7 linked regions of the Homo sapiens genome follow. The protein of the gene in region 4 purifies or fractionates together with the protein of the main gene of each other region. This does not show direct contact. Each region holds a gene or a part of one and is shown on either strand. Other genes may lie near its edges.

Region 1 (3,500 bases), on a different chromosome or scaffold from region 4:
AATAAGTAGGCAAGAAGGGTAAAGCTGTCTTAGTACAGAATGCCAACTAATAAACATAGAAGCAAAAGTAGAGTCATGGCGTGAGTTGGCTAAAGAAAAAAAAAACAGAGTCAGAAAATAAACAATAAAGGCTAAAAGAGTAGTTGCAAATTTAATGAGGAACCAGACATATTGATACAACGTCCTGTCCCTCCTGACATGACCAAGGACACATCCTTTCTGGGCTGCTTCTGACAAAAGTATACAATCCAAATCTAATAATGAGGATATGTCAGGAAAAAAAACCACAAGAACTCACCTATTTTTTAAAAAGTAACAAGATCAAGAAAGACAAAGTTCATCTGGTTAGATAGATGGTGGGAGAAAAAAAGAAGGGCAAAGGAAGGCAAAGGAGTAGACGGAAGGACATGAAGAAACATGACAACTAAATGCAACACAACACACAGTCCTGGATTGATTGGATTCTTGATTCAGAAAAAAAAAAAAAGCCACAGGTACATCAACAAAATAATTGACAGAATTTAAATTTGGTCTAAGGATTAGCTAATAGGCAATATCAATGTCAAATTTCCTGACTCAGATATTTATTCTGGGTTATATATAAGAACATTGTTGATCTCAGGAAACACACATTGAAATTTTATAGGGGAAGAGTATGAGGACTCAAAGTTACTCTCCAATGTTTCAGGGGAAAACAGAGGGAGAGAGAAAAAATGGCAAAGCAAGTGGGACAACAGGTAAGCAAGTGGTGAATAAGTGTGAAGAGTATACAGCCATTCCTTCTACTGTTCTTGCAACTTTTCTGTAGGTTTGATAAATCCAAGATAAAAGATTACCAAAACACACGCACATACACATTACTGTAATTATTCTCTATGAGGATACAGTAGCTCAGTGATTTTTCTTTTTCTTTTTTTTTTTTTTTGGAGACGCCCAGCTAATTTTTGTATTTTTAGTAAAGACAGGGTTTCACCATGTTGGCCAGGCTGGTCTTGAACTCCTGACCTCAGGTAATCCACCCACCTTGGCCTCCCAAAGTGCTGGGATTACAGGCCTGAGTCACCATGCACAGCCCATTATTTATCAAATGATTTTTTTTTTTTTTTTTTGAGACCCAGTCTTGCTCTGTCACCCAGGCTGCAGTGCAGTGGCGCGACCTTGGCTCACTGCAAGCTCCACCTCCCGGGTTCACGCCATTCTACTGCCTCAGCCTCCCAAGTAGCTGGGACTACAGGCGCCGGCCACCAGGCCTGGCTAATTTTTTCTATTTTTCAGTGGAGACGAGGTTTCACTGTGTTAGCCAGGATGGTCTCTATCTCCTGACCTCGTGATCTGCCCGCCTTGGCCTCCCAAAGTGCTGGGATTACAGGTGCGAGCCACCACGCCCAGCCACCTCAGCGATTGCTTGGTCACAAAATTACTAAGAACCAGGCCTTGAACCTGAATCCAGGCCTTCTGACAATAGATCTTTCCAGTGTCCCTGCCCTGTCACTTATCAATGAAGAAATCACCCCCTTAGGCCATATTGCTGAACAATGAACCAAGTGATTGAGAACTGTGGGGGGAAATCCTAAAGTTTTTAAAGCACTGGTAGTTACCTGTCATGACGACCTACTTAGCCATCTTGTTTGGACACAAAGGAACTGACACATACTTCAATCTGAAAGCTGTACTTCCAAATTGATGGGGCCCAAAGAAAGAGGGGTAAAAAGCAACATTTACATGAAACAAGGATGTTTTCTAGGAGCCCCATTCAATTTCCAAACTGGTAAGTGCTGCGTCTGATAGCAGGTACTCAGCCCAGCACCACCGCTCTACTGAATACTTCTTTCCTTTGCATCTCCTGTGTCTGTGCTTAACAGGGCTGATAATTATGCCAGGTGGATTCACCTAGGATGATCTATTTCAATTAAATTGTGACTGACCTTAATATAGTGAAGACATATAATAGAACCATTTAACTTACACGAATTCATCTACTTGTAAATGTAATATGCATGCAAGTATACATAATATAAGCATATGTACTTAAGTGATATGGCCAAATATTGCACTTCCTGCATAAGCCTAAGCCATGGAATGGGTGTGAGATGCACTGTTCTCTCAGGGATATCTTACTTTATGTGCTTCCCCTAATATGAGCATGTCCTTGCTGAGTATGACATAGCATTTAAAGAAATTAGAATAAAGATGCTAACTAAAACAGGTTTTTAGTTAAAAAGCAATAAAGGAGAATCCTCATCCAAAAATGGAAATGAATAGTAGGTGAGTGAGGAGTGGGAAGGACAGGAAAATAAGAGACAGGTGAATGGGAGCCATGGTTTCGACTCCAGGTGCAAGGGAGCCTAAGCGACAGGCTCTGCTTGAAGCTGCGAGCCTGGGGTGAAGCCTGGAACTGGAAACTTCTGCCCATTCCCTCTGCTAGGCCTCGGACTAAACCTAACAGAAACAGGCAAGACAAGGTGGGAAAGATGAGTACAGGGAACACAGAGGACTTTTAGGGCAGTGAAAATACTCTGCATGATACTATAATGGTGGAATACATGTCTTCATACGTTTGTCCAAACCCACAGATCATGCAACACCAAGAATGAACCCTAATGTAAACTATGGGTTTCAGGTGATGTGGATATGTCAGTGTAATGTGGGCTCACCGATGGTAACAGATGCACTGGTCTGGTGGGGGATGTTGATAGTAGGAGAAGCAATGCGTGTGTAGGGGCAGGGGATAGATGGGAAATCTCTCTACCTTCCTCTCACTTTTGCTGGGAAATTAAAGTTTCTCTTAAAAAATTAAGTCTCTTAAAAAATTCATTTGTTAAAAAACAATCAAAAACCGGGAAAATATTACAAATAAAATATCATTGCATAAAAGACTCAGGCAAAATGAGAGATCTATGACATTCACAGATGGGAGGATGAGAAATCCTAAGCTAACCTAGAAATTCAATGTCCAGGCTCCTTAGTTAGCCATTGGAGGCACTCTGGCCTGGTCCCTGCCAACATCCCTGGCCTTGCTTCTTCAAATGGCCCAACAGCCAGTGCTGCCATCTTCCCTGCCTCCAACCTTGTGCTCCTATAGCACCCCCTACAGCCTGCTCTCCACATTGCAAGCAGGATGGTCCTGCTGAAACAAGTCTGATCACATCACTGCCCAAACTGGCCAATGGCATCTCATCTCACTTGAGTAAAAGCCCAAGGCCTCAGCACAGGCCACCAGGCCATGTGGCCTGTCCTCTTCTCCCGTCACTCTCCCATCCCCCTTGCTCAAAGGAGTCAAGCCTGATCCTTCCTCATGGCCTCTGCACTCTACTCCTTCCATGCTGCTCCTCTCCCCAGAGCAGCAGATCTTACATCCTTCAGTGCTGACACCATCGAGTCCTCCCTGCCCATCCTGGATAAAGCAGCATTCCTCCCACCAGTCTCCATCCCCCTTACTCTGACCTATTTTGCTCAACAGCACTGACCACAATGTGAGCCAACACACTGTCTTCTCTGAC
Region 2 (3,500 bases), on a different chromosome or scaffold from region 4:
CGCCACACCCAGCTAAGTTTTATATTTTCTTTTGTAGAGACAGAGTCTCACCATGTTAGCCCAGGCTAGTCTTAGCTCCTGGGCTCAAGCAATGCTCTTACCTTGGCCTCCCAAAGTGCCGGCATTACAGGTGTAAGCTACCTTGCCTAGCCCAGTTTTTCTATTAATCTTTTTTTTTTTCTGTTCCAAGATCCAATCCTGGATACCACTGCAACTTTAAGTAGAAAATATTCCTTTGAGCCTGGGCAATAAAGTGAGACCCCATCTCTACAAAAACATAAAAGTAAGGCCAGGCACGGTGGCTCATGCCCATAATCCTAGCACTTTGGGAGGCTGAGGTGGGTGGATCACCTGGTCAGGAGTTCGAGACCAATCTGGCCAACATGGTGAACCCCGTCTCTACTAAAAATACAAAAAGTTAGCCAGGTGCAGTGGTGTGTGCCTGTAATCCCAGCTACTCGGGAGGCTGAGGCAGGAGAATCGCTTGCCCTTAGGAGGCAGAGGATGCAGTAAGCCAAGATTGCACCAATGCACTCCAGCCTGGGAAACAGAGCGAGACTCTGTCTCAAAAAAACAAAACAAACAAACAAACAAACAAACAAACAAAAAACCCCTAAAAGTAAAAATAAAAATTATCCAAGTATGATGGTCCATGTCTGTGGTCCCAGTTACTTGAGAGGCTGAGGCAGGAGGATAACTTGTGTCTGGGAGGTGGAGGCTGCAGTGAGCTATGACTATACCACTGCAGTCCAGCCTGGGTGACAGAGCAAAAGACCCTATCTCAAAAGAAAAGAAAAATCCCTAATATCCCGTCACAGAAGGGAAATGTATTTTTCATTGTTTTTAAAGCTCTTTAGCCTCATTTCTTCAGAGAGGAAAAAACTCTGTGCAGAGACAATATCTCCCTATGTTGCCCAGGCTGGTCTCGAACTCCTAGGCTCAAGTGATCCTCCGGCCTGAGCCTCCCAAGTAGCCAAGACTACCAGCATGTGCCAACACACCCAGCTAATTTTTGTATTTTTTTTGCAGAGATCGGGTTGTGCTGTGTTGCCTAGGCTGGTTTCAAACTCCTGGGCTCAAGAAATTCGCTCGCCTCAGGCCTCCCAAAGTGCTGAGATTACAGGCATAAGCCACTGTGCCTGGCTTCTGGAACTGATCTTTCAGGCGGCTGAATCCCTAAAAGATTTCTCTTTACCTCGTTGCAGCCCCAGGACTACTCATGCACAGTATTCCACAAGGTTCATGCTCCATCCAAACAGAAGCCCCCTCAGTGCAAAAACTAAATCATGCTATCTTCCCTACATTATTTATGTACTTGCCCAGTTATTACTTATTCACCAACACCGTAACAAAGATAAAGTAGACTTGAAGAATCACGTATCAATCGTAAATTCATTTTCTTGTGTTTCAGAGCCTTTTGTTGATGACATGCATAAATGTAAATATTTAAAATTGCTAATGAACAGCTATTTATAATGAAACTTCTTTGAGGGTGAGTCCGGAATGAAATTACATTATCCAAACATAATGAGTCATGACTGTATGTCTCACTACATCCTCACATATGTCATGTCACTCAACCCTAAAATCAAACAATGCAGGGTGGATCACAGGGAAGGAAGGCTGTTCTCTAACACATTTCTGCGACCTGATAGCAAACCAAAAAAGATTGTATGGTTTTCTTAGAACTCCTCCAAGTCAGAAGCCTGCCTGGTCTGAGGTATCTTCAAGGGACATTTTCACCATCCTATGGAACTGCAAAGCAGCTCCCTGGTCCTTTCTGAACTGCCTCGTGCTGTCTGAACTGTCCATGACTCTGGGTGAATCAAAGTGAAGATAGGCTCATGGACTATGAGTCACTCTCCCTAAAAGCCCTTCTAAAAGCATAGGATTAGGACCTCAAACTGGATTAGCACAGCCCCTGAGGGAGCAGAAGAGTTGAGCAATGCAAACTCCACAGTGAGTGCCACTCAGAAGATGAATGAAGGCCAGTCCCTGCGCCAACACATTGGGTCCCTCCACCTGTTTCCAGGCATCACCTCTTCTCACAAGTGACAGGAGCATCCCTCTAAACTAGAAAGCCTGCAATGTACAGCAACTTCAAATCAGAGAAACAAACTTCCTCATGATCTTTTTGCCCCTCTATGAATCTAAATCCATTCAGCACGGTGGCCCATGCTTGTATTCCTACTGCTTTGAGAGGCCAAGGTGGGAGGATTGCTTGAGGCCAGGAATTCTAGACCAGCCTGGACAACAGAACGAGACCCCATCTCTACAAAAATTTAAATTAAAAAGTTAACCAGGTATGGTGGTGCACGTTTGTAGTCCCAGCTACTCGGGAGGCTGAGGTGAAAGGATTGCTTGAGCCCAAGAGCTCAAGGCTACCACAAGCCATGATGGCACCACTGCACTCCTGCCTGGGCGATGGAAGAAGACCCTGTCTCTAAAAAAAAAAATGTTTGTTCATTAAAAGAAAATCTGGCCAGGTGTGGTGGCTCACATCTGTAATTCCAGCACTTTGGGAGGCTGAGGCGGGCGGATCACCTGAGGTCAGGAGTTTGAGACCAGCCTGACCAACATGGAGAAAACCCACCTCTACTAAAAATACAAAATTAGCGGGGCGTGGTGGCACTCTCTCTCTCTTTCTTTCTTTCTTGGTGTGATCTTGTCTCACTGCAACTCCGCCTTGAGAATTCAAGTGATTCTCCTGCCTCAGCTTCCCGAGTAGCTGAGACTACAGGCCCACACCACCACACCCAGCTAATTTCCATAGTTTTAGTAGAGACAGGGTTTCACCATGTTGGCCAGGCTGGTCTCGAGCTCCTGACCTCAGGTGATCTGCCCGCTTCAGCCTCCCAAAGTGCTAGGATTACAGCCATGAGCCACCACATCTGGCCAAAACCAGCTATTCTATTCTAAAATACAAGCTACTTTAGACACATTCTTAATTGATGCTGTATTAAGTTGAAGAAAGAAGACAGTTTTAGGACTTTGCTATGCAGTCTTCAAATTACCCTGCATTTGACTTTGGCCTCTGATTGAAAGCATGAAAGATTTGAGGGATCTACTGAGGAGTTCTAGGAATGAGATATACAAGGTCATGAAAAGAGAAGCTGTAAGAGGAGGGAATTCAGGAAAGGCCTACATTAAATGCTTGGGAGGAGAAGACGAAGAAAAGTTACCAGGAGACAGTAAGGAAGAATGAGTCACTGAGGTCAGGTCAGGTTGGCTTACCCGGGCAATTCTTCCAGCTGAAAAAATCCATCGCTGGTTATTCCTAAGCTGGCACCTATGTAGAAAAAGGCAACATAGATCACACAAGACTGCTCTTTCTCTTGCAAAGTAATCACAACATTTTATGCCAAAAACCAAACACTTTCACAGCCAACATAGTCTCCGTTTTGACAAGTTTTGTTAAAGTCTCTGCTTGGAAAGCTGCCAACCAAATCCTCCCTGAGTTAACATTTTTATTTTCTCTCTAGAAACAGAAGCCATGATGG
Region 3 (3,057 bases), about 20 Mb from region 4:
TCAGAATCTATGGGGGTGGAGCCCAGCCATCTAAACAGGCCGTGGGGTGATTCTGAGGCTTGCTGTAGTTTCAGAGCCATTGTCTAGAATTTAGGAGGTGGGAACAGCAAAGAGAAAATGGCGAGGCAGTGGCTCACATCTGTAATCCCAGCACTTTGGGAGGCCGAGGCCGGTGCATCACTTGAGGTCAGAAGTTCGAGACCAGCCTGGTAGTGAAACCCCATCTCTACTAAAAATACAAAAATTAGCCAGGTGTGGTGGCACGCACCTGTACTCCCAGCTACTCGGGAGGCTAAGGCAGGAGAATTGCTTGAACCCAGGAGGCAGAGGTTGCAGTGAGCCAAGATCGTGCCACTGCACTCCAGCCTGGGTAACAGAGCAAGATTCCTTCTCAAAAAGAAAGAAAGAAAGAAAGAAAGAAAATAGCAAGGCCTATGCCATGGCTCACGCCTGTAATCCCAGCACTTTGGGAGGCCAAGGTGAAGATCACTGGAGGCTGAGAGTTTGATACCATCCTGGGCAACATAGAAAGAACCCATCTCTATCTTTTAAAAAAAATTTTTAAAGAGAGAAAATGGTCAGCCAGAAGCATGCAGGCTTCCTGAGGCTGTCTTTTACAAGCAGCTAGACAGGCTGAGTCCTGCAAAGGGAAGCCTGCCCGGGTCAGAGCAGCTACAGGCATCTCAGGCTGTTACAGAGGAGCCACGTACCCTTCCAGATATAGATCTTGCCACAGAGCCCGTTGTCCAGCACAAAGCAGTCATCAGATATCAGCAGTTCAAGGGCAAATGGGCTGGAGTCAGCCACCTTGGTCAGGTTCATCTGTCCAGTGGCATCAGAGACCTGGGGAGGAGGGACAGTGCCTGATCTCACCCCCCACACACCAGCCCTCACCTCAGCCTGAGGAGGGGGAGGCTGGTCCTCCCTAGGTCCCTCCCACTGTGCCTCGCTGCCCACTGCCCAGGTCCCAGGAGCAGACAAGAGAGTGAAGACCTGAAAAGCAAATTCCAGGCAGCCCCACTCCCTCTCATCACCCCAATCCCTGCAGCACAGGGGCCCCGAACCCATTTGGAAATTAGGTGGATTCCAAATTACAAAGAAATGCACAGAATTCAAGAAAGAAAAGCTCAGCATTGGCTTCAAGCCTTCACCAAGCATAGGCTGGAAGTGAGGTGCACTCATCTCCTCAGGAGGGCCTGCCTTCCGCCCACTCCCCATCCTTGTCTCACTCCCAGCCCTGTATAACTCCCCACCTCCCACCTCGGTTCCAGCCCCACCTTCCCCCTGCCTTCTCCCCTCCACCCTGCTTGCATGCAGCTGTGCTGTGCAGGCTCCCACCCTCCCTGCTGCCGGGTCCCAGGGCAGGCTTGGGGGGCCCACCTTATACAGAGCTGCGGCCTGGGCATTTGCCTTGTCAGCTGTGAGGTCTTCCTCAGGGTTGCCCTCCTTCAGAGCAGGCTTGGGGCCCAGGACCTGCAGGGGCCAGGGCAGGCCAGGTTTATAGGGACCCCTGCCCTGGAACTTCCCAGCCCATCATGCCCAGGGCCACTGCTTCTGGTGGGGCAAACTGCGCCCTGCACTAGGGCACCCAGCAGAGGTGAGGTGAGTGAGGGCTGAGTCCAGCCCACCCCACCAGCCAGGCTGCTCAGCCTCGAGGACGAGCATCTACCCAGAGGGGCACCCTGTGAGCTGGCCACAGCCCTAGGCAGTACACCAGATGGCCCCTGCCACCCTCCACCGGCCACTCTCAGCCCTCAGCTCATCACCACCTCTCTTGGCCACTTTCAAGCAGAGGCTCCCAGCCACCCACTCCAATGTCCCCCAACCTGGATCATCTCAGCAGGCTCCTCCCCATCAGTGACAATCTCCACCTGGGCCTTGCCCTGTCGCTCACTGTCCCGGATGGCCAGGGCCAGGTCCCTCGCCTTGTTGCGTTCCAGGATGTTGGACTTTCCACCACACCAGGCGAAGATGTTCTGCAAGGAAGCAGGAAAGTCCGGGTCAGAGCCAGATGCCTGTGTCCTGCTCCCCAGCTCAGAGAAGGGCGCACAGCTCTCCCTCTCTCCTCTCTGAACTGTCCCTGAGGCAGGACAACCAGGAAGGCAGAGCACAGCACAGAGGGCTCTCTGAAAATGCCCACGACCACCCACTGCAACTGTTTCTCTGCCCACCTGCCATCTGTCTTCCTTTCTTTTTTTCGAGACAGGGTCTCACTCTGTCATCCAGGCTGGAGTGCAAAGACGTGATCATGGCTCACTGCAGCCTTGACGTCATGGGCTCAAGCAATCGTTGCACCTTAGCTTCTAAGCAGCTGAGACTATAAGCACTTGCCACCATGCCTGGCTAATTTCTTAATTTTTTGTAGAAATGGGGTCCCACTATGTTGCCCAGGCTGGTTACAAACCGCTGGGCTCAAGCCTCTTTCTTTTTCTTTTTTTTTTTTTTTTTTGAGATGGAGTTTCGCTCTTGTTGCCCAGGCTGGAGTGCAATGGTACAATCTCAGCTCACCGCAACCTCCACCTCCTGGGTTCAAGAGATCCTCCTGCATCAGCCTGCCGAGTAGCTGGGATTACAGGCATGTGCCACCAGGCCCGGCTAATTTTATATTTTTAGTAGAGATGGGGTTTCTCCATGTTGGTCAGGCTGGTCTCGAACTCCCGACCTCAGGTGATCTGCCCACCTCGGCCTCCCAAAGTGCTGGGATTACAGGCGTGAGCAGCCACGCCCAGCACCTCTTTATTTTTCTTCCCATCACATATCTCCTATGTTTAAACGTCTCTTAACCACCTATCTCCACCTACTAGAAAGTGAGCTTCATTAGGACATGAAGGTTTTGTTTGGCTTTGCTCACCACTGTGGGCCCACTGCTAAAACAGAGCCCGGCATGGATTTAGGCGCAAAATAAATATTGACTGACTGAGTGAAGGACTGGATGGGTGAATGGCTGAATGGCTCCTTGAGCGCAGCATCTCACACTTCTACCCACCGCCCTGCCAGGCAGAGCCCCTGTCACCTCTCCTTTTCTGGTAATGGCGAGGTCTGTTCACCTGTCCCCTT
Region 4 (3,500 bases):
AGTCCCTGTGAGCGGGAGCAGGGCAGGGGATCAGAGAGCTGGAAAGAGGACTGCAGAGAATGACGGGAGCTGCAGGGCAGCTGGCTGGGCTTGCGTCAGCACTGCTGCATGTTCAGAGAGCTTGAAGTGAAAGGCTGCTATCACTGTCACTTCCTCATCTCAAGTTGTCTGAACATGGAACAGTGCTGCTTCATGAGAGCTTAAGTTCCTAATACTTGGAGGCATTCCAGCAAAGCAGGGAAGACCTCTCAGAAATATTCAAGAAAGGTTCACGCATCAGGGAAGGGAAGGAATCAGAGAACTTCTTTGGTGCCTTTCAAATAGAAAATTTGGAATTCTACAATTTTGTGTCTGCCCCCATCCATGGGGGCAATGACAGCTACACACAAGTGAGACTCCAGCCCCCTTCCTTAGCTCTACAAAACCCCCAGGAGGGAGGATACCCCAGGGTTGAGGAGGAGGCTTGTCTGTAGACACATCAGTCCTTCCTGTTTTCTTCCCATCACTTGAGCAAATTACTTGGTGCTATGGTCAGAATGTCTGTGTCCCCCTAAAATTCATATGTTGGAACTTAATCCCCAGAGTGGTAGTGTTGGGAGGTGGGGAGGTGATTAGGTCATGAGGGTGGAGCCCTTATGAATGGCATTAGTGCCCTTATTAAAGAGGCCCCAGAGAGCTTATTTGTTCCTTCCATCCACTATGTGAGGAGGCAGCTGCAAGGCACCACCCCTGAGGGATGGGCCCTCACCAAACACTGAGCCTACCATGCCTTAATCTTGGACTTCCCAGCCTCCATGAACGGTAAGCAATACATTTCTATTATCTATTAATTACCTAGTGTATGGTAGTTTGTTACAGCAGCTGGAATGGACACTTGGCTATTCCAGCCTCAACTGCCTCATCTGTGAAATGAGAATAACGGTACCTACTTCATAGGATTGTTGGACGATTAAGTAAGTGACCTCATATAAAATGCGGACAGCTGGCACACAGCACTCAAACTTTTGGATCTCATCATAAATACTATGATTCCCTCCCAGTCTGGATCAGCTCTCACTCCTCTCTCAAACTACCAGCTTGCTTCAGGTGTTTATTTCCCAAGCTGGGCACCAAGAGATTAGACTATGCTGTCTTCTGTCCTCAGATATGGGTAACCTGTTCACCTCCGCCAAAACACAGCCTGCATCATAAGCCAGAACACACACTCACACACCTGCCCCACCCCTAAGACATCTTCACACTCACCTACGGGAGCTCATCTTCACAGAAACTATGGAAAAGAGCTGGGGGAAGTGTAGAGGGAGGTTCTAAAGGCACCACAGAGAAGGAATCATGTCCATCTACCTCGGGGCTGTGGGAACATCCCCAGAATCCCAGGTGAGGCCGAGTGCAGAACTCTTGCAGGCTTCTACAAATAGTCTCTGGCACAAACAGCTCTTAAACAACATCATGTATTTGTCCCAACCAAACATAACCACCAAAACCCACCTAGACAACATTTTTTTCTCCATTTAAGAGCTAATGAGTAAAACCCAGATATTGAAATGTCAGCTTCCAGACATCTAAGTTAGTGAAAGTGAAGTAATACAAAATACTTCTTCCTTCATTGATTAATCAATCAGGGTTGTCTTTTTTAAATGGCAGGAGTAAGCAGTTCTGCCATTTAAAATATAAATTGTGTCTCCCTTTGCGGAAGGAATAGAGAAACAAACTCTGGGCACCTACAATCAAACTCCTTTTATTTAGCTTCTTAAAAGTATAATATTCATAATTCCAGCCCCTGTCTTCAGTTAGCATAAGGGATAAACTAAACACATTTGCAGTAAAGAATATTATAGAAAGAATCAAACGCCTCATATTTAGTCTAAATCCTGGGGTAGATAGAGAAGGGGAGAGGGAGAGAGAGCTGTAAAAAAAAAAAAAAAACAAAAAACAAAAAAACATATGGTTTACTAAAAAGTCATAACTCTATAATATTTAAAAACAAATGCAATATTGTTTCATTATCTAGTAAACTGTTATTCAAGCCTTGCTAAAGATAAGCTTCCTATTATAGGCCTTTAAATTAAGGACTTGCTTTGGTAATTAAATGGTAATAATGCAGAATTACATGGAGGTAAATGAAAGCTGAAGAAGTAACATGCTAGCACTTAAAAATGACTTATCCTTAACCCTGTCTCTACAAAAAAAATATAAAAACTTAGCCAGACCTGGTGGGGCACACCTGTATTCCCTCCTCCTCAGGAGGCTGAGGTAGGAGGGTTGCTTGAGCCCAGTGGTTTGCGGCTTCAGTGAGCCATGATTGCACCACCGCTCTCCAGCCTGGGAAACAGTGTGAGATGCTTTCACACAGAAAAAAAAAGAAAAAAGAAAAAAAAATTGGCTAGGAGTGGTGGCTCACACCTGTAATCCCACCATTTTGGGAGGCTGAGGCAGGCGGATCACCTGAGGTCAGGAGTTCAAGACCAGCCTGCCCAACATGGCAAAACCCCGTCTCTACTAAAAATACACACACAAAAAAAAGTTAGCCAGGCATGGTGGCGGGCACCTGTAATTCCAGCTATTCAGGAGGCTGAGGCAGGAGAATCGCTTGAACTGGGAGGCAGAGGGTGCAGTGAGCCGAGATCGTACCACTGCACTCCAGCCTGGGTGACAGGAGCAAAACTCCATCTCAAAAAAAAAAAATTAATTTAAAAAACTATTTTTTTTAAGCAGTGGGAAAATTCTCTCCATGATCTAATTCACATGATATATTTACTTAGATAAAATATGAATCATAAAAAGATAAACTTTAGGCCACACCTCTATTAAATATAACTTGCTGGGGTTCTGAATCAGAGAAGTTTCAACATGGTAATGTTTCAAAAGGAAACGTTTCTCTAAGGTGTAAAATTCATACTTTACTGTGTGATCTCAAAATGATCGAAAATTTAAACTTTTTGTTAGAACTTCACTTTAAGGCTTACCTATAATCCTAACACTTTGAGAGGCCCAGGCAGGAAGATCACTTGTGCCCAAGAGTTCAAGACCAGCCTGGGCAAAATATTGAGACTTGGTCTCTATTTTTAAAAAAAATAAGAATATTAAATTTAAAAAATTCACTTTAAAAGTATGATTATAATAATTTAAAAGATCAACATTTTAATGTTTTCTTAAAATTTCAAAATACATACCCAGGTAGGGAAGAGATTGGAAAATGCTAGGATGCTCAAGGACCATAATTTAATTAAGCTAACCTTGCATATGCAGCAAGCACCTCTAAGTTTGCAAAAAACTAAACAATTACAAGACACAATCCCACTTCCTAAGAGTCTCCCCGTCCTATTAAGGAAATAGGACTAGAAAAATAAATCAGTAATAGTATAAAGCAATACATGCTAAGGGTCAAAATAAAAATATTAGTAATTATTTCCTACCAGGTTAAGAATATGCACATTGTCATTTTAAAGATTCTGCCACTGGTGATAGTCAGAATCTTAGTCAGCATCTTTAAAGATGCT
Region 5 (2,629 bases), on a different chromosome or scaffold from region 4:
TGAGCTGAGATTGTACCCAAGCGCCAGCCATCATATCAGCATTCCAGGTGTCAAGAAGGAGTTGGGGAGGGCAGAGAGGGCAGAGAAGAATACCGTCCCCAGTTTGTTTGTTTTTTTTTTTTAGATGGAGTCTTGCTCTTTTGCCCAGGCTGGAATGCAGTGGTGCAATCTTGGCCCGCTGCAACCTCCGCCTCCCGGGTTCAAGTGATTCTCCTGCCTCAGCCCCCCAAGTAGCTGGGACTACAGGCATGTGCCACCACACCCAGCTAATTTTTGCATTTTTGGTAGAGACAGGCTTTCACCATGTTGGCCAGACTGGTCTTGAACTCCTGACCTCAGGTGATCCACCTGCCTTGGCCTCCCAAAGTGCTAAGATTACAGGCATGAGCCACTGCGCCTGGCCGCCTGTCCCCAATTTTAAGGATGCTTATTGAAAATTTAGCCCAGCATTTCTGCTTTCCTTGACTGTAGCTTAGTCACATGGCCACGCCTCGCTGGCAGGGAGGCAAGCGAAGGTCTTTTTCACACCTAGTGGCAATATGGTCAGCTGAAAATGGACACCAGCAAAGAAGGGGAGAAGCGCAACCGTAGTCTGCCTCAGCTCTACAGCAGGATTTAAGCTCTGGAGTCAGACTGAGTTGTAATCCTAGCTCTGCCCTCTTGAACAAGTTACTTAATCTTGCTGTGCCTTGGTTTCCTCGTTTTACAAATAGCGTCATCTCATAGAGTTTTTCTGAGAGGGAAATGTGAAATGCTGCCTCCAGTGCCTGCACAGTGTCTGCTACATGTCAGCTCTTACCCTGGGGAAAAGGCTGGTCTGTGTGTTTGCTGCTTAGACAGTGGCAGTCGTGTTCTCTAGAAGAGCCTGGAGATCAGGAAGACTGAACTGCTGCGTGCTCGTTTCTGGCAGGTTTGGACATGGCACCTTTCTGCTGTGCCTGGAAACCATTTACCAGAAAGTGACGGGCAAGGAGCTGAGATACGAGGGCCTGATGGGCAAACCCAGCATCCTCACTTACCAGTATGCCGAGGACCTGATCAGGCGACAGGCGGAGAGGCGGGGCTGGGCCGCCCCCATCCGGAAGCTCTATGCTGTGGGGTAGGCTCTGCTCTCCCTCCTTTGTCCCTTTTATGACATCCCCTTCTCTCCCTCCTCCTCTACTCTCACCCCCATTTCCCTATATCTAATTCACTCTTCTGCCCCGAAACTCTTCTCTGCTCCCTTTGCTTTGCAACATTGATTTAGGGTTTTTTCTCCTTTTTCCTTTTCCGGTGTGGCTGCCCCTGCCAGTGATAACCCTATGTCTGACGTATACGGCGCCAACCTGTTCCACCAGTACCTGCAGAAGGCAACGCATGATGGGGCGCCAGAACTAGGGGCCGGGGGCACACGGCAGCAACAGCCCTCAGCAAGCCAGAGCTGCATCTCCATCCTGGTGTGTACAGGCGTCTACAATCCCAGGAACCCACAGTCCACGGAGCCTGTCCTTGGAGGAGGGGAGCCTCCATTCCACGGGCACCGAGACTTATGCTTCAGTCCAGGGCTCATGGAGGCCTCCCACGTGGTGAATGACGTGAATGAGGCTGTGCAGCTGGTCTTCCGCAAGGAGGGCTGGGCTTTGGAGTGAGGGCAGTGCGGTGGAGGTGAGGGGGTGAGCCTGGACCTGTGGGCGAGTCCCATTGGCTGGGCTCTGGCCTGATCACTGGGCTCAGGTCAGGGCTTGGTTCCCTTGCCACCCTTCTTGCTGCCCCATGAGTGTGGCATTACTGGTCACTTGGAAGAAGACAGTGACTCTTTTTCCCTGCTGGGTAGCATTTTGTATGGAACGGTTGGAATTTTCTGGGCCCAGTTCCCACGTGCCTTTCGTGGCAGTCTAACCTCAGGCCATTCTCTTCCCCTGTGTGCCTCAGTGTCCTTCTCATTTCAGTAGGGACTTCTGAAATGGGGGAGGCAGTGTGGAATACTGTGGATGTCTGTGCAGAGCCTTTGCCGGCACTGAAGGCATGCAGCCTGTCGGCAGAGTGTCTTAACACCAGATGCTACTTTTTACTGTATTGTAGTTTATTGCCCGGAGATGTGGGGCTTTTTTTTTAAATAAAATAATCATAATAAATGTTCATGATGCTGACTCTTGTGAAGCTCTGTCTGGAGTGCACTAAAAGTCCTGTGGGGAAAGGAGGAGTGAGTGGTGTGGGCGGCCCAGGGTCTGGGAGATGGGTGGCATTTCAGCTCCACGAGGTGCCCACATCTCCTTTCCTACCTCCCGCCCCCAAGTCCACACCCATTCTGGGCTGTGAAGCCTGAGGCTGTCTATGAATGAGTATGCCTGGCTTTGGCATATACTTAGCAACTTCCCTGGTGTGGAAAAGAAGAGGGATCTTGTTACTGGTTTGTTCTAAAGGAAGCAGCTCTTCCTGCAGTGATTCTAGAAAACATGCCGCTTCTTGCATCCCTTCCTCTAGGAGTAACCAACTTCATTTCTTCATTTGTCTGTGTCACCCATGGCCTCAGCATCTGCAAATCCCCCAGTCAGTTCTCGTCCTCATTTTACTCCAGTAGCTGTTTGTGTTTGACATAGCTGATGCCTCCCTCCCTTGTTCTTTTTTTATTTTTTAGAGACGGAGTCTT
Region 6 (3,500 bases), on a different chromosome or scaffold from region 4:
AAATTCAGCATTATTATTACAAATTTCGGTTACAGATGGAATTATTATTATTTAGTTTTGTCTCTTAAAGCCATGTGTGGCCTTGGGATGTGGTCCCACTAATGTAAATGGAAGGCTTGGAAACCAGGAAAGGCCCTTCTCTTAGAAACTGAGCTGTTCTTTCTTTCTTTTTTCCCTTTTTTCGAGACAGGGTGTCACTCTGTCACCCAGGCTAGAGTGCAATGGAACACTCATGGCTCACTACAGCCTCAACCTCCCAGGCTTAAGTGATCCTCCCAGCTCAGCCTCCCAAGTAGCTGTGATTAGAGCCATGAGCCACCTCACCTGGTGAAACTGGGCTTTTCTATTCTGGGACTTGTAACTTTAAATTGAGCAAAGATTGGGCCTGAGCTGAGGGAGATAATGAGTCTCTGTCTGGGTGGTGTCTAAAGTGGGGTCAGACACCAGGCTTGCGCCTTATGTGTTTGGTCTTTGCTTCTTCTCACAGGAACCCTGGGGAAGCAGTATTATCCCCATTTGACAGACAAGCAAGTGGAGGCTTAGAGGGGTTCCTAGCCTTGTCTGGGAAGGTGGCTGACATTGGAAGTACCTGTCCTGGGTGGGTTTGCTGCCATGATCATCTCGTGTTCAGGCCTTGGGTCTGAATCTGTTGTGCCCTTGGTCTGTTGTCATGTTTGCTGTTACTGTTAATCAGGGGACACTGGTGACTCCCTATTCTTGATTCCTGACCCAGGTTTGCCCTCTTTCTCCCATGCTGGGAAGTGTCACTTCCTTATCAGTGACCATTGAGCAGATGGCTGATAACCCCGTTACCCAGAGGCTCAGGGTGACTTGAGTTTGAATCTCAGCTCCTCCATGTATACTGGGCAAGTTATTAACTGGCCAAGCCTCTCTGTGCTCCTCTTCTGTAAGATGGACAGAACCCAGAGTGCCCCATTATTCACACAAGGTTGAGTGAGGTCAGGATCTACACACAGTAGGTTTCTCCTGTTGTTAGGGTCCTTGGGGCTCTCCCAACAGACCTCAGTTTCCTCTTCAAAAGTGCTTGCTGCTTAGACAGCTCACCTGAATGTTTGCATCTGAGCCTCTTGTGTGGCAGCACTTGCTGATGAGCTAGTGAGGACAGTGGCCCTGCTGTCCTTTCTGGGGAGCTGGTGGCAGTTGCAGCCCTGCTGGGTGCCCTGGGCAGACTCTAGTGGCTGAGGTGGGAGGTGGCCCATCTGTATGCAAGGCAGCCCTGGCTGAGGCTGGCCTGGTGGGCCTGTGTATTGTGTATGTACATGCAAATAGGCTTTTCTCCTTGGCTGCTTATTTATTTATTTATTATTTATTTAGAGACAGGGTCTCTCTGGTCACCCAGGCTAGAGTGCAATGGCACCATCATGGCTCGCGGCAACCTCAACCTCCTGGGCTCAAGTAATCCTCTTGCCTCGGCCTCCTGGGATGTGTGCTACCATGCCCAGATAATTTTTGAATTTTTTGTAGAGACTGGATCTCACTATGTTGCCCAGGCTGGTCTCGAACACCTGGGTTCAAGCAGTCCTCCTGCCTTGGCCTCCCAAAGTGTTGGGATTACAGACGTGAGCCACTGCACCTGGCCTTGGCTGCCTTTGGTAGAGGTCTGGTCTGGGCTGACTGGACTTGGGACTGGGCTGTGCGTTGCTCTAGTCCAGTGTGGCACACTGAGACAGGTAAACCCCAACACCAGAAAGTCAGGTTCTCCTTCATGAACTGATAGGATTTTCAAACAAAAGAATTTTCAGTTCTTTTTCCAGCTGCCCCTCCGCCTGTCTCCTGTGCCCCACGACAGGCACCATGCCCCCCTCCTGCCCATTGCCAGGCATTTCCTTCCCTCCCCTGATAACCTGCTCCTCCACGGTCCACTCCCCTTTAGCCAACCTGGAGGAACTAGGATTCTAGCAAGCCTGTGCATGAGCCCCATTTACTTTTTAAAGTTCGGATTAAAATTTTGAGCTTCTCAAAATGAGACAGGTTTGTTCTCCTGCTTGTGTTTTTGTTGGTTTAAGAGGGAGGATGGAACGGGGTGGTCTGGGCCTTTAGAAAAAGACAGAGCACGCTAACTCTGAATAGGTCTTTTCTGTGCAGCAGCTCGGCTAATAAGGCTGCTTTTCCTAAACCCAGCCAAGCTCAGGAACAAAGGTCAGTGAAGACAATGGGGTGGGTTAGATAAGCCTTTCCCCCTCCTTCCCCAGCCTGTCCCAAGGGATCCATCAATGGCCTTGGGATGCTGGGCCTCAGAAAGGAGGGCTGGCCTTGAGAGGCTCCCAGGCAGGTGACCCAGGGGTGGGTAAACTGTGCCCAGTGCTTCACAGTTTGCCACAAACAGCATCCCAGTCCCAATTCCATTCTGTTCAGAGCTTCCAAATGGTCCCAGGAGGGAGACCTTAGCATCTCCATATCTTAGATGGGGAAATCAGGGCTTGGAGTGGTGGTGCGGTGACTTGCTCTAGGTCCTGTGGGGCTGATTGGGGGGCCTGGGATGCGTCTTGGGTCTCCTGTGTCAGAATTCTGAGCCCATGGCCCTGTGCCTGCTGCCCAGAGAGTTCCAGGGGAGCGGTGACCTCTGCCACAGAGACAGGGCACCTCCTCCCAGGATGCCAGGCCCGGGGCCTCATTCCTGTCTCCCTGTGTCCTGGCATGGAGGAGTGGGGGAAGGCGGTGCAGGGTGGGCCACCTTCCCTACGATGGCTGTGGCTCCCCATCTCTTGGTTTCTCCTTCCCTCACTTCTCTGCACGAGGCTGGCTTGCCACCGCAGCAGTCGCCCCACCAGACCTCTTGCTCAGGCCTGGCCTCTGAGTTCCCAGGACCAGCACGTGATACAGAAGGAAATCAGTGGTTGCTCCTAATCTGTTTTCCGCCGGTGGGGATTTTCCAATCCATGCTTGTTGCCTTCATTTGCGCAGAGAATTGGAAGTCTGTTAAGCAAGTTCCTGAGCCTCCATGGGCCTCTGTTTTCTCTTTTGCCAAGTGGGAAAATGTTACTAACCTTTGGGTTGAGGGAGGAGGGTGTGTAGTGAGTGATACGTGTAGCCTCTGGCGGGTGGCAGCCCCTGATGTGCGAAGGCCCCATCTCCCGCTGCAGCGCTCGGCACCCCGCATGCCGAGGGGCATGTAGCCCTCTGGTTAGTGATCTGCCTCCAGGGTCAGAGAGCCCTGGGTGAATCTTGGCTTTGCCACCTGCTTTATGGCCGTGGCAGCTTACTGAACCTCTAAGCCTCAGTTTCTTCATCTATATCCTGAGGCTAATAATGTCTCGATCCTAGAACTGGGCCTTAAAGGATGGGTTCCATGTCCTTTCATTATTTCCTGGCCTCTGCGGATTTGCCTTCCCTGGGTGGGAGTGGGAGATCCCCTGACACACGCTGGTACCCAGTGTAGGGTCGGAGGCAGCTGAGTCCTCATCTAGTTGAATGGAGGGAGCCAGCATTCCAGGCAGGAATAAGAATGGCTAAGGTTTGGAAGTGGGGTCTGGAGCATG
Region 7 (3,500 bases), on a different chromosome or scaffold from region 4:
GACCAGCCTGGCCAACATGGCAAAACCCCACCTCTGGCCGGGCACGGTGGCTCACGCCTGTAATCCCAGCACTGTGGGAGGCCGAGGCGGGCGGATCACCTGAGGTTGGGAGTTTGAGACCAGCCTGACCAACATGGAAGGAACCCCATCTTTACTAAAAATACAAAACTAGGCATGGTGGCTCATGCCTGTAATCCCATCTATTCGGGAGGCTGAGGGAAAAGAATTGCTTGAACTCAGGAGGTGGAGGTTGCGGTGAGCCAAGATCGGGCCATTGCACTCTAGCCCGGGCAACAAAAGCAAAATTCTGTCTCAGAAAAAAAAAAAAAAAAAAAAAAAAAAAAAAAAAAAAAACAACCGTCTCTACTAAAAGTACAAAAATTAGCCAGGCGTGGTGGTGTGCACCTATAATCCCAGCTACGTGGGAGGCTGAGGCAGAATCACTTGAACCCAGCAGGCAGAGGTTGCAGTGAGGCAAGATCACGCCATTGTACTCCAGCCTGGGCAACAGAGCAACACTCAATCTCACACACAAAGAAAAGTTTCATAAAGAGTCACACATAGCACACGTGGTGCCGCTCCAAACACCACCCAGTGTGCAGCATACTTACCCACGCCCTGTGTTGTCAGGCCGGCCACCATCAGCCAGTGCCACAGTGATGGTCCGAGCGTGGTCAGCCAGCACCCGGTAGGCCATGTCAATCCCATCGGCATCCTCAGCACCAACTTTCCCAGTGTATGGTCGGGCACCTGTGCCCTATAGATAAGAATCAGGAGGCAGCCCTTTAGGAAGCAGACTTTCTGGCGCTACCTTGCCCAAGGAGGTTCCTGGAGGATTGAGGAGCATTAGCAGAAAGGATGCCGGTCTTGCCAGATCCTATAACCCCAAGAACGTGACATTGGGGAAGTAGAGAGACTCCAGCCAGCCCCTACACTCAAAAATTATACTGTCTCAGGTCTAGAGCCTCACATTATTATTTTTTTTTTGTAGTCAGCTATTTAATTAGGTTCTTAAGACATTTAGAACACCAATTTGTGGAGCCTCACATTATTAACAATGAAGTAGGCAGATGGAAATGGGTACCCTTGGCTGGCAAAGCATATGGTCATTTTTTCTTTGACAGCACTGTTAAGAGTACAGCCTGGAAAACTCCACAGAAGTTTACAATGTTTGCAATAGCACCAGTACCTTCTGAATGGCTTCAAAGTAAGGGACAAAAAGGTCAGTGTCATAGTTGGACATCTTATTCTGCAGCACAGATACCAGTCGTTCCAGGCCCATCCCTGTGTCAATGCTTTTCTTGGGAAGAGGTTTCAGAATGCCATCAGCTTCCCTGTATGATCCAGAAGAAGAGGAGGTTGAAGCAGAGACTCAAGCTGCCACCTCTCCAGTCCCTGCTGGTTAAAATTCATTTACAGAACAGTTTGCAGGCTGTGACCATCTGCCATTTGCCCGGTTTGGTGGGAAGAGGGAAGTGGAGGGAGAAAGGAAGGAGAAAGGAAGAGTTCATTCTTAAATGAACTCTGGGGTTCATTTAAGAGTGAGGAAAGGCCAGGCGCAGTGGCTCATGCCTGTAATCCCAGCACTTTGGGAGGCCGAGGTGGTGGACCATCTGAGGTCAGGAGCTCGAGACCAGCCTGCTCAACATGAAGAAACCCCATCTCTACTAAAAATACAAAATTAGCCGAGCATGGTGGCACATGCCTGTAATCCCAGCTACTCGGGAGGCTGAAGCAGGAGAATCGCTTGAACCCAGGAGGCGGAGGTTGTGGTGAGCTGAGATTTCACCATTGCACTACAGCCTGGGCAACAAGAGCAAAACTCCATCTCAAAAAAAAAAAAAAAAAAGAAAAGAAAAAGACTGGGCATGGTGGCTCACGCCTGTAATACCAGCATTTTGGGAGGCCGAGGCGGGGGAATCACTTGAGGTCAGGAGTTCGAGACCAGCCTGGCCAACATGATGAAACCCCATCCCTGCCAAAAATATTTTAAAAATTAGCCTGGCATGGTGGCATGCACCTGTAACCCTAGCTACTCAGGAGGCTGAGGCAGGAGAACTCAGCAGGCTGAGGCAGGAGAATCGCTTGAACCCAGCAGGCAAAGGTTGCAGTGGGCTGAGATCTTGCCACTGCACTCCAGCCTGGGTGACAGAGCAAGACTCCATCTCCAAAAACAAAAACAAAAACAAAAACAAAACTGAGGCAAGCTTCAAGGAAATAGGCTTTAAAACAGCAGTCCAGTTCTGGCACGGTGGCTCACACCTATAATCCCAGCACTTTGGGAGGCTGAGGCGGGCGGATCACCTGAGGTTGGGAGTTCGAGACCAGCCTGACCAACATGGAGAAACCCCGTCTCCACTAAAAATACAAAATTAGCCGGGCGTGGTGGCACATGCCTGTAATCCCAGCTACTCGGAAGGCTGAGGCAGGAGAATCGCTTGAACCCAGGGCACAGATGTTGCAGTAAGCCAAGATCACACCATTGCACTCCAGCCTGGGTAACAAGAGGAAAACTCTGTCTCAAAAAAACAAAAAAAAAAAACAGCAGCCCGAAGTACAGCAAGCATGACATTATAGGAATAGCTCGCAAGAAGCTATTATGTGCGATAAGGTTTAGTTCATGAAAGAATAGGCCCATCCTTGTTCCAGAGATCAGACAGGTAATCTGAGAAATAAAGAAATGAGCTTTTAGCTGAGAAGAGAGCTACACAGCTCCGAGTTCCTCCTCCCCTGCTCAGCTCAAGGAAAGGAATGGAGTAGGAACCCAAGGCTACCTGTTATACTGGATGAACACAAGGTTCCAGATCTCCAGCACATTAGGGTCGTCCTGGTTGACAAGATGTGCGGCGTCCCGACCACCAATCCGGTCGTAGTGGATCTCACTGCAAGGACCACAGGGGCCCGTGTCACCCATCTCCCAGAAGTTATCCTTCATGTTGCCTGGGAGGATTTTGGTGTCATCCAGCCTGACAAAGGAGTAAAGATAAGTCCAGTTACAGCCCCTGACAAGAGTTCTGCCCAGACTTGCAACCACCGCAAAAGAAATTCTTAGGATTGGCCGGGCACAGTGGCTCATGTTACTGCACTCCAGCCTAGACAACAGAGCGAGACTCTGTCTCAAAAAAGAAAAAAAAAAAATTCTTAGAATTTTTAATGAAGAAGTTCCAACCTTCAGCAAGTACTAATGCTAAGCCTGCACATTAAACCTGCTAAAGAAGCTGGGCGTGGTGGCTCATGCCTGTAATCCCAGCATTTTGGGAGGCCGAGGCGGGCGGATCACCTGAGGTTGGGAGTTTGAGACCAGCCTCATCAACATGGAGAAACCTTGTCTCTACTAAAAATACAAAAAATTAGCTGGGTGTGGTGGCGCATGCCTGTAATCCCAGCTACTCGGGAGGCTGAGGCAGGAGAATCACTAGAACCCAGGAGGCAGAGGCTGCGATGAGCCGGGATCGCGCCATTGCACTCCAGCCTGGGCAACGAGAGCAAAACTCCATCTC

The links.
Region 1: the proteins of TGFBRAP1 (region 4) and TIGAR purify together in Homo sapiens (co-immunoprecipitation; one large-scale study listed by IntAct). This does not show direct contact.
Region 2: the proteins of TGFBRAP1 (region 4) and GSR purify together in Homo sapiens (co-immunoprecipitation; one large-scale study listed by IntAct). This does not show direct contact.
Region 3: the proteins of TGFBRAP1 (region 4) and CAPG purify together in Homo sapiens (co-immunoprecipitation; one large-scale study listed by IntAct). This does not show direct contact.
Region 5: the proteins of TGFBRAP1 (region 4) and HDHD5 purify together in Homo sapiens (co-immunoprecipitation; one large-scale study listed by IntAct). This does not show direct contact.
Region 6: the proteins of TGFBRAP1 (region 4) and CCDC85C purify together in Homo sapiens (co-immunoprecipitation; one large-scale study listed by IntAct). This does not show direct contact.
Region 7: the proteins of TGFBRAP1 (region 4) and AARS1 purify together in Homo sapiens (co-immunoprecipitation; one large-scale study listed by IntAct). This does not show direct contact.

The regions. Positions count from the first base shown.
Region 1 is NC_000012.12:4,355,713-4,359,212, reverse strand, and holds part of TIGAR (fructose-2,6-bisphosphatase TIGAR), read right to left. Parts: 3' UTR 1-3,500.
Region 2 is NC_000008.11:30,696,847-30,700,346, forward strand, and holds part of GSR (glutathione reductase, mitochondrial isoform 1 precursor), read right to left. Parts: intron 3,290-3,500; coding exon 3,235-3,289; intron 1-3,234. UniProt on the Homo sapiens protein: Catalyzes the reduction of glutathione disulfide (GSSG) to reduced glutathione (GSH). Constitutes the major mechanism to maintain a high GSH:GSSG ratio in the cytosol.
Region 3 is NC_000002.12:85,397,310-85,400,366, forward strand, and holds part of CAPG (macrophage-capping protein), read right to left. Parts: intron 1,977-3,057; coding exon 1,827-1,976; intron 1,474-1,826; coding exon 1,381-1,473; intron 844-1,380; coding exon 711-843; intron 1-710. UniProt on the Homo sapiens protein: Calcium-sensitive protein which reversibly blocks the barbed ends of actin filaments but does not sever preformed actin filaments. May play an important role in macrophage function.
Region 4 is NC_000002.12:105,309,236-105,312,735, forward strand, and holds part of TGFBRAP1 (transforming growth factor-beta receptor-associated protein 1), read right to left. Parts: intron 1-3,500. UniProt on the Homo sapiens protein: Plays a role in the TGF-beta/activin signaling pathway. It associates with inactive heteromeric TGF-beta and activin receptor complexes, mainly through the type II receptor, and is released upon activation of signaling.
Region 5 is NC_000022.11:17,137,020-17,139,648, reverse strand, and holds the end of HDHD5 (haloacid dehalogenase-like hydrolase domain-containing 5 isoform 2 precursor), read left to right. Parts: intron 1-910; coding exon 911-1,099; intron 1,100-1,291; coding exon 1,292-1,628; 3' UTR 1,629-2,129; downstream 2,130-2,629.
Region 6 is NC_000014.9:99,597,708-99,601,207, reverse strand, and holds part of CCDC85C (coiled-coil domain-containing protein 85C), read left to right. Parts: intron 1-3,500. UniProt on the Homo sapiens protein: May play a role in cell-cell adhesion and epithelium development through its interaction with proteins of the beta-catenin family. May play an important role in cortical development, especially in the maintenance of radial glia.
Region 7 is NC_000016.10:70,269,007-70,272,506, forward strand, and holds part of AARS1 (alanine--tRNA ligase, cytoplasmic), read right to left. Parts: intron 2,967-3,500; coding exon 2,775-2,966; intron 1,335-2,774; coding exon 1,190-1,334; intron 758-1,189; coding exon 612-757; intron 1-611. UniProt on the Homo sapiens protein: Catalyzes the attachment of alanine to tRNA(Ala) in a two-step reaction: alanine is first activated by ATP to form Ala-AMP and then transferred to the acceptor end of tRNA(Ala). Also edits incorrectly charged tRNA(Ala) via its editing domain.